Linked DNA regions of Homo sapiens: region 2 is linked to region 1. Evidence: fine-mapped expression QTL. Tissue or cell type: blood mononuclear cells. Region 1 holds a variant in brackets; the other region holds the start of a gene. All regions are shown on one strand. Distances are between the middles of the regions.

The links. PIP is the estimated chance that this variant, and not a neighbour inherited with it, causes the effect.
Region 2: RAD50 starts here. The variant in region 1 is fine-mapped to the expression of RAD50 in blood mononuclear cells (TOPMed, PIP above 0.99). The same link has a PIP of 0.9 or more in whole blood.

The regions. Positions count from the first base shown.
Region 1 is chr5:132,345,081-132,350,708 of GRCh38, reverse strand. It overlaps MIR3936HG (MIR3936 host gene), which reads left to right. Exons shown (of 8, transcript NR_110997.1): 5 at 752-894. Among named protein-coding and RNA genes, the nearest start is that of MIR3936, 18 kb to the left of the region's middle. RefSeq lists a silencer at 4,701-4,873. The variant G/A (reference allele first, on the strand shown) is at 2,524.
Region 2 is chr5:132,555,086-132,560,085 of GRCh38, reverse strand. RAD50 (RAD50 double strand break repair protein) reads right to left here and starts at 3,109. Exons shown (of 25, transcript NM_005732.4): 1 at 2,633-3,109; 2 at 719-802. The coding sequence starts at 2,761. It also overlaps a transcript of IL5 not described here. RefSeq lists an enhancer at 2,826-3,486.

The sequences.
Region 1 (5,628 bases):
TCAAAGTCACACAGCTGATAGAGAAGTGACACACCCAGCATCAGGTCCTGGAACACTTGTCTCCAAAGGCTATGTACTTAGCCCTATTTGCTTTAACTGGAGTATTAGTGGGCATTACAAAAATTGATGCATATGTACAAAGGATGGTAATTTTGTCCAGTATGTTTTTGTTAATACTTTTCCAACTTGAGTTAATTTTAAGATTTTCTGTTGTACAGAATTCTTTAAAAGTTTATAGTAAAATCTATTTATCTTCAATTTCCTATTCATCTTAAAATTAAATGTCACCTATATTTTCTTCTAGCTTTTGATTTATTTACTCTTGGCTCTATTTTATTTACATTTATTACATTTGGCTCTTTAGTTGATCAGGAATTAATTTGGTATGTGGTTTATGGTGGGATACTATTTATTCCCCCAGTTTTTCCATTTTTACCAGTTCTTCAGCTTGTCGATTGTCCCAGCACCAGTCTTCAACAATGTATCATTTTCTTGATAATTTATAATTCATCTTTATCATATGTTACAATTTTTCAACACTTGGGTCTGTTTCTGTGATACCTCTTCTATTTCGTTGATTGATTTATCTTTTGTGTGTGTGTCTGTGTGTGTGTGTGTGTGTTTGTGTGTTTTCCAGGAAACCCAGAGTAGTGTAGTCATTGTGTGTTTTTATATATGTAAGAGAACATTTCCCCTTATCAATGATCTTTTTCAAAAATTTCTTAAACATATTACATATTTCTTTTTTCAGATGCTCTTTACAAATATTTTTTAACTTCTTAAAATATCTCATTGAGGATTCCGTTCCAAGATGGCCAAATAGGAACAGCTCTGGTCTGCAGCTCCCAGTGTGATCGACGCAGAAGACGGATGATTTCTGCATTTCCAACTGAGGTACCTGGTTCATCTTACTAGGACTGGTTGGACAGTGGGTGCAGCCCACGGAGGGTGAGCCGAAGCAGGGCAGGGCATCGCCTCACCTGGGAAGCGCAAGGAGTCAGGGGATTTCCTTTTCCTAGCCAAGGGAAGCCGTGACAGATGGTACCTGGAAAAACGGGACACTCCTGCCCAAATACTGCGCTTTTCCAAAGTCTTAGCAAATGGCACACCAGGAGATTATATCCTGTGCCTGGCTCGACAGATCCTATGTCCATGGAGCCTTGCTCACTGCTAGTGCAACAGTCTGAGATTGACCTGCAAGGCAGCAACCTGGCATGGGGAGGGGCATCCGCCATTGCTGAGGCTTGAGTAGGTAAATAAAGTGGCTGTGGAAGCTCGAACTGGGTGGAGCCCACCACAGCTCAGCAAGGCTGACTGCCTCTGTAGTCTCCACCTCTGGGGCAGGGCATAGCTGAACAAAAAGCAGCAGAAACTTCTGCAGACTTAAACATCCCTGTCTGACAGCTCTGAAGAGAGCAGTGGTTCTCCCAGGATGGTGTTTTAGCTTGGAGAACAGACAGACTGCCTCCTCAAGTGGGTCCCTGACCCCCATGTAGCCTAACTGGGAGACACCTCCCAGTAGCCGACTGACACCTCATACAGGCAGGTGCCCCTCTGGGATGAAGCTTCCAGAGGAAGGATCACTCAGCAATATTTGCTGTTCTGCAATATTTGCTGTTCTGCAGCCTCTGATGGTGATACCCAGGCAAACAGGTCTGGAGTAGACCTCCAGCAAACTCCAACAGACCTGCAGCTGAGGGACCTCACTGGTAGAAGGAAAACTAACAAACAGAAAGAAATAGCATCAACATCAACAAAAAGGACATCCACACCAAAACCCCATCTGTAAGTTACCAACATCAAAGACCAAAGGTAGATAAAACCACAAAGATGGGGAGAAACCAGAGCAGAAAAGCTGAAAATTCTAAAAACCAGAGCACCTCTTCTCCTCCAAAGGATCACAACTCCTTGCCAGCAATGGAACAAAGCTGGGTGGAGAATGACTTTGACGAGCTGACAGAAGTGGACTTCAGAAGGTCAGTAATAATAAACTTCTCCCAGCTAAAGGAGGATGTTCTAACCCATCGCAAGGAAGCTAAAAACCTTGAAAATAGATTAGACGAATGGCTAACTAGAATAAACAGTGTAGAGAAGACCTTAAATGACCTGATGGAGCTGAAAACCATGGCACGAGAACTTTGTGACACATGCACAAGCTTCAATAGCCGATTCGATCAAGAAAGGATATCAGTGATTGAAGATCAAATTAATGAAATAACTCAAGAAGATTAGAGAAAAAAGAGTAAAAGGGAACGAACAAAGCCTCCAAGAAATATGGGACTATGTGAAAGACCAAATCTACGTTTGATTGGTGTACCTGAAAATGACAGGGAGAATGGAACCAAGTTGGAAAACACTCCTCAGGATATTATCAAGGAGAACTTCCCCAACTTAGCAAAGCAGGCCAACATTCAAATTCAGGATATACAGAGAATGCCACAAAGATACTCCTCAAGAAGAGCAAACCCAAGACACATAATTGGCAGATTCACCAAGGTTGAAATGAAGGAAAAAATGTTAAGC[G/A]CAGCCAGAGAGAAAGGTCGGGTTACGCACAAAGGGAAGCCCATCAGACTAACAGCGGATCTCTCGGCAGAAACCCTACAAGCCCGAAGAGAGTGGGGGCCAATATTCAACATTCTTAAAGAAAAGAATTTTCAACCCAGAATTTCATATCCAGCCAAACTAAGCTTCATAAGTGAAGAATAAAATCCTTTCCAGACAAGCAAATGCTGAGAGATTTTGTCACCACCAGGCCTGCCCTAAAAGAGCTCCTGAAGGAAGCACTAAACATGGAAAGGAAAAACCGGTACCAGCCACTGCAAAAATATGCCAAATTGTAAAGACCATCGATGCTATGAAGAAACTGCATGAACTAACAAGCAAAATAACCAGCTAACATCATAATGACAGGATCAAATTCACACATAACAATATTAACCTTAAATGTAAATGGGCTAAATGCCCCAATTAAAAGACACAGACTGGCAAATTGGATAAAGAGTCAAGACCCATCCGTGTCCTGTATTCAGGAGACCCATCTCACGTGCAGAGACACACATAGGCTCAAAATAAAGGGATGGAGGAAGATCTACCAAGCAAATGGAAAGCAGAAAAAAGCAGGGGTTGCAATCCTAGTCTCTGATTAAACAGACTTTAAACCAACAAAGATCAAACGGGACAAAGAAGGCCATTACATAATGGTAAAGGGATCAATTCAACAAGAAGAGCTAACTATCCTAAATATATATGCACCCAATACAGGAACACCCAGATTCATAAAACAAGTCCTTAGAGACCTACAAAGAAACTTAGACTCCCACACAATAATAATGGGAGACTTTAACACCCCACTGTCAATATTAGACAGATCAATGAGACAGAAGGTTAACAAGGATATCCAGGACTTGAACTCAGATCTGCACCAAGCAGACTTAATAGACATCTACAGACCTCTCCACCCCAAATGAAGAGAGTATACATTCTTCTCAGCACCACATCACACTTATTCCAAAATTGACCACATAGTTGGAAGTAAAGCACTCCTTAGCACATGTAAAGGAACAGAAATCACAACAAACTGTGTCTCAGACCACAGTGCAATCAAATTAGAACTCAGGATTAAGAAACTCACTCAAAACTGCACAACTGCATGGAAACTGAACAATCTGCTCCTGAATGACTACTGGGTAAATAACGAAATGAAGGCAGAAATAAAGACGTTCTTTGAAAACAATGAGAGCAAAGACACAACGTGCCAGAATCTCTGGAACACACTTAAAGCACGGTATATAGGGAAATTTATAGCACTAAATACCCACAAGAGAAAGCAGGAAAGATCAAAATCAACACCCTAACATCATAATTAAAAGAACTAGAGAAGCAAGAGCAAACAAATTCAAAAGCTAGCAGAAGGCAAGAAATAACTAAGATCAGAGCAGAACTGAAAGAGATAGAGACACAAAAACTTCAAAAAAATCAACGAATCCAGGAGCTCGTTTTTTGAAAAGATCAACAAAATTGATAGACTGTTAGCAAGACTAATAAAGAAGAAAAGAGAGAAGAATCAAATCGATGGTATAAAAAGTGATAAAGGGGATGTCACCACCAATCCCACAGAAATACAAACTACCATCAGAGAATACTATAAACACCTCTACACAAATAAACTAGAAAATCTAGAAGAAATGGATAAATTCCTGGACACATACAGCCTCCCAAGACTAAACCAGGAAGAAGTTGAATCTCTGATTAGACCAATAACAGGCTCTGAAATTGAGGCAGTAGTTAATAGCCCACCAACCAAAAACAGTCCAGGACCAGACAGATTCACAGCCAAATTCTACCAGAGGTACAGAGGAGCTGGTACCATTCTTTCTGAAACTATTCCTAGCAATAGAAAAGAGGGAATCCTCCCTAATTCATTTTATGAGGCCAGCATCATCCTGATACCAAAGCCTGGCAGAGACACAACAAAAAAAAGAGAGGCCGGGCGCGGTGGCTCACGCCTGTAATCCCAGCACTTTGGGAGGCCGAGGCGGGTGGATCATGAGGTCAGGAGATCGAGACCATCCTGGCTAACAAGGTGAAACCCCGTCTCTACTAAAAATACAAAAAAATTAGCCGGGCGCGGTGGCGGGCGCCTGTAGTCCCAGCTACTCGGGAGGCTGAGGCAGGAGAATGGCGTGAACCCGGGAAGCAGAGCTTGCAGTGAGCCGAGATTGCGCCACTGCAGTCCGCAGTCCGGCCTGGGCGACAGAGCGAGACTCCGTCTCAAAAAAAAAAAAAAAAAGAGAATTTTATACCAATATCCCTGATGAACATCGATGCAAAAATCCTCAATAAAATACTGGCAAACCGAATCCAGTAGCACATCAAAAAGCTTCTCCACCACGATCAAGTGGGCTTCATCCCTGGGATGCAAGGCTGTTTCAACATATGCAAATCAATAAACATAATCCATCACAGAAACAGAACCAATGACAAAAACCGCTTGATTATCTCAATAGATGCAGAAAAGGCCGTCGACAAAATTCAAAAGCCCTTCATGCTAAAAACTCTCAATAAACTAGGTATTGATAGAACGTTTCTCAAAATAATAAGAGCTATATATGACAAACCCACAGCCAATATCATGTGGAATGGGCTAAAGCTGTTGACCTGATAGATATGGGTTCAAGAGGACACAGCTGAATACTGTGCTTAGGAAAAGAACAGTTTCAAAGGCTTTCCAGATTGTCAGATTTGATGATATCCTCCTTGGTGCACACCTCTCTTGGCTATGGGGCACATAAACCACCTCTACCAATCTAACTGGTTTGTGCAGTTTTTCTGATTTTGTATCTACCGGCAAAATATATCTTAAGCCATTTTTAGGAAACAGGAGGTTTAGTCACGTGCTCAACAAAAGCACAACAAATGGGGAGCATTTAATGGTGTAAGGGCTGTGAGGTGTAGCTGCTGAAACTGTAGCTAGGAGCTGCCTTGCTGCCTTCTTGCAGGCAGATTGGCCAGATGAGCCAGGCTAAAATACAATTAATATCTACCATTGTGGTTTAATATGAAATATGGATACCTGGTCTTTGTCTCAGTTCTTGTCATAGAGTTCCCCAAACCTTTAGAACTTCCTGA
Region 2 (5,000 bases), 210 kb before region 1:
ATATATATGTGTGTGTGTGTGTGTGTGTGTGTGTATTGTTGTTTCACTTCTATATGTGCAAAAACAAACCTATAGACCAAATTCTATGTCCTTTACACATACGAATAGTATAAACACCATAATTCAAACAATGATTCATACACAAAGATTTTTATCATGATACTTTTTTTTCTAGACAGTGGGTCTCACTATATTGTCCAGGCTAGCCTTGAACTCCTGGGCTGAAGCAATCCTCCCATCTCAGCCTCTAGAGCTATCTGGGAGTATTGGCACACACCCCCAAGCCTGGCTTATCATGGTACATTTTAATGAAAAACTGAAAGCAATCTAATGTAAGAAAATTACATAACTACTAAAGTGTTCATGCACTTTAAGTAGAAAATATCTCAGACATACAAAGCAGTATAAAGATTAAAAGAAACACTTACATACCAAACACCCAGATGATAGTTTTTTAATGACATAGGACTTCATGATAATGTTAAGTGGGGAAAAAAACCCAGAATACAAAATTAAGAGTATGACATCAGCTATATAAAACAGTATTTAAAGGAGGAGGAAAACACATGAAAATGTCAACAACGGTTACTACTGGGTGCTAAAACTGTGTGGGGCTGACTTTCATTTCTCTTTATAGTTTTCCAGTGCCAAGTTTTCTATAATAAGCTATTATCATTTTTATAATTATAAAAATACAAAATTGTACTAGCACCATTACCTTGGGATCGTGTACAAATGTATTTCCTTTGGTTCCAGGAGGGAAATCTCCAGTACAAATATATTTTAGACATTCAATGATGGTCTAAAGAAATAGAAAATTACATTATTTCGTTATAAGAGAACCACAGAAGTTTACCATAAAATATGAATTCATTACAAAAATATTATTTATCATGGAAACTATAAAAGATAAAATCTGACATTATAAAACCTGTAATAAAAATATGATTAAGTGTTAATGCTGTAAGTTCACAGAAATGCTATATAACTAAGAAGTTATCCTAATATGAAGAATTGTTACTTGGGAAAAAAATAATTATTTTCAACTGAAACCCTTTAAACTAATTTAAGTTAATAATAAGAATGGCTAACAGTTAAGTACTGTATTGTACTAAGCACTCTTACATACATTTATTTAATTCTCACATTAACTCCAGGCTGTAGGAACTTTTTGTTTAAGAGACAGGGTCTCATTCTGCTGCCCAGGCTGCAGTGCAGCTGCATGATCATGGCTTACTGCAGCCTCGACCTCTCGACCTCCTGGGCTCAAGCAATCCCCCAGCCTCAGCCTCCCAAACGGCTCGGATTACAGTCGTCAGCCACCATGCCCAGCCTGTAGAAACTTTTTTTTTTTTTTTTTTTTTTTTGTGGGGGGAGAGAGTCTCCCTCTGTCACCCAGGCTGGTGTAGTGCAATGGCGTGATCTCGGCTCACTGCAACCTCCACCTCCCCGGTTCAAGCGATTCTCCCGCCTCGGCCTCCCCAGTAGCTAGGATTACAGGCATGCGCCACCACGCCTGGCTAATTTTTGTATTTTTATTAGAGATGGGGTTTCGCCACGTTGGCCAGGCTGGTCTCGAACTCCTGACCTCAGGTGATCCACCCGCCTCGGCCTCCCAAAGTGCTGGGATTACAGGCGTGAGCCACCGTGCCCAGCTGTAGAAACTATTTTTAATCTCCATTTTATAAATGAGAAAACTAAGGCACAGAGCAGTGAGGTCACTCGCAAACAATCAGACAACTAATAAATGAAGCGAAAAAGCTGTATTGAGGCAGCCAGTCCTCATAAACACTATACAGTACTACTCTCCCTTCTGCTAGTATTTAGTACAATCCTAAGTACATAACAAGCATTCAACAAATAACATTTTTACAAAAACAAAAGTAAACAAGTTTGGCATTCAATTCTCAACCTTCTCTCTTTCTACACTCTTCACAAATCCTTCCTTTAGACTCTTCTCCCTGCTATACTGACATCGTCTTGCTTTTTCTTAAGCCACTATTCCTGACCAGAATGCCTCTTGGTTATTCTTTCCATTCAAATTTATAAATATTCCCACGGCTTTAAAAAAAAAAAAAAGTCAGTCGTGCACCAACGTTAAATTTTTGACTGAGTTTTAAGAAGAGAAGTTTTCCAAGTTAAGCCCCACTACATCAGTTACATTTTGAATTTATTTATTTTCCATGTATTATGTCTGGACAGTTGGCATACTTGGAAACTCTTTAGTCATGTATGTATCATTTTATAACTTTTAAAGGAATTCTTGTATGGGACAACTACTGGGAAGTGAATGCTATGCTTTGAAAGCAAGGAGACAGCGTTAAAAACATCAATACAGACCAAAGGGCATCCAGTGGGAACTGAACTCTGAGTGAGCGGCGACAGCTCCCGGTATCGTGGGATTCTTAAGTAAACCTTGTCCCCAGGCCAGGTCCGGACATCCTTCCGAGACTGCTTCAGGCAAACTCCTAAGGTCGCTGTAGCCTGCAGGCCACACCCTAAGGCACTTTAAGGGCCTACACCTGTGGAGCCCTAGGGACGCTTCTGCTCCTAAGGAGAGTTCTCAACTTCCCATTTTATTCTCCGAAAGATGTAGCGACCTGTAAACTGAAGGCGGCTACTGAAGACTTACCGTCTTTCCCGCCCCATTGGGTCCAACCAAAATTGTAAGGGGGCTGAAGAAAGTGATAATTTGCTTATCTTTGTCCTCTATTCCAAAACTCCGCACGCCCAGAATGCTCATCTTTTCGATCCGGGACATGTTTGCAAACGTTTCTAATCTCACCAGGGACCTGGAGCCCACAAAGGCTTAACTGAGGCCGAAGCAAGGCGTGCACGGGACGTGAGACCCGCGAATCTCAGGGTCAGGAGGATCCGGGCGGGGAGCGAGGCCACAGGACTGCCAAAAGATCCTGCCAGCCAACAGCGGGAGAGAGGGGGCGGGGGATGGAGCCTTTCCTCCCACACCAGCTGCTTTCCCCGCCGGTGGGGAGAGCGGAGGCGGGGACCAGCCTGGGGCTGCCCGCCGGGGACGCAAAGCCGTAGCCACAATGCGACCCCGCAACCGCGCACTCACAGCTTCCTGCCTCGGCCGCCCTGCGGATCACGTGGGCCTCTAGGCCCGCACGCGTCCACGCCGCTCTCCTGGGGCACGCCGGGAAATCAGAGTCCCGCGGTGCGTGCGCAGCTCCGACTTCCGGGTGCGGTACGGCGAAGCAGAGGGCTAGGTGCTGGGTGCTGTTGCCAGGGGCAGCGGACTTCCGGATCTTTGCTGGGGATGGGCAGCCTGGAGAGGCACTGACTTTTGGAAGGGGAGACCAAGACCTGTGACGGATGGCGCTTCCCAAAGCTTGATCCTGGGACTCCTGGAATGGGGGTAGTGGTGGGGTGGATTGGAGACCCAGGAAGCGGGGTCAGTTCGTGTCAAAACTATTTTCCTTTTCATTCTCATTCTCTCTCTAACGTTCGTGTAGTAATTTCCAGTGATCACATAACATGTGATGACGCCATTGCAGTGGCGGTTAATGGAATGTGCGCATGTGTATTCTTGCGCTTAGAAATACCAATTTTAATTTCTAATTGAGTAAATGTTGATAATTATAACTCACGTACACGCTCTTTGAGGTCCCCCGTAATTTTTTAGTGTAAAGGCGTCTTTAAGACCAAAAGTCTGGGAACTAAAACTAAAAGCAGTCTGCAAATATGAAGAATGTAGAGGTAATCCATTCCGATCAGTGCTCCCAGCAATAGATATCTTTAAAAATAAGGGAAAGAGAAGTTACCTGTCTCAGAAGTAACTGAGAATATTGCTTTCTTGGAAACAAACTTAATGGAGGGATATCACATTTAAGGGCCTAGAGAAACATACATAAAAATTACTGAAACAATAGTGGAGGACATTTAAATGAAACACAAATTTGGAATTACTGTAGTGGTATAATTTGCCTCTGCCTGCCTTGGAAAAATGTAGGAAATGTTTCTCCAGTCATACAATCCCAAGCAAATAATTTACAGAACCTAATACATAAATGTATGTGCCAAAGGATGCAAGTGGGGAAGACCAGTGAGAAATAGTCTCTTGCTGTACCAGGTTAAAAAAAACCGGAAAGTGTCAGTTATTACAAAATAGTTAAAATAACTAATGGAACAAAACATTAAAATTATATAGGAATGTCTTACTTGGCAAAGCAAATGTAATAAAACAATGGGAAAAGACGAAAGACCTTTTTTTATTTTAAAAATTGTAAAATACACATAAAATTTACTGTCTTGGCCAGGCGCGGTGGCTCACGCCTGTAATCCCAGCACTTTGGGAGGCCGAGACGGGTGGATCACGAGGTCAGGAAATGAAGACCATCCTGGCTAACACGGTGAAACCCCGTCTCTACTGAAAACACAAAAAATTAGCCGGGCATGGTGGCAGGCGCCGATGGTCCCAGCTACTCAGGAGGCTGAGGCAGGAGTATGGCATGAACCCGGGAGGCGGAGCTTGCAGTGAGCCGAGACCGCACCACTGCACTCCAGCCTGGGCAACAGAGCGAGACTCCGTCTCAAAAAGAATTTACTATCTTAACCAAGTGTACATTTCAGTGGTGTTAAGTATACTCACGTACAACCGTCACCACCTTTCAACCTCTACAAATCTTTTCACTTTGCAAAACAAACTACCCATTAAACAATAACCCTTTCCTCCCCACATCCTCCAAACCCTGACAACCAACATTCTACTTACTGTCTCTATAATTTTTTACTAAGTACCTCATATAAGTGGAATCATACAGTATTTATCTTTTTGTGACTGGCTCATTTCACTTATAATGTCCTCAAGGTTCATCCATGTTGCAGCTCAGTCCCCAACCCCTGGGTCACTGACCAGTATGCATACCTGGCCTGTTAGGAACCTGGTGGCACAGTAGGAGGTGAGCAGCAGGTGAGTGAACATTACCACCCGAGCTGGGCCTCAGATCAGTGGGGGCATTAGATTCTCATAGGAGCACAAA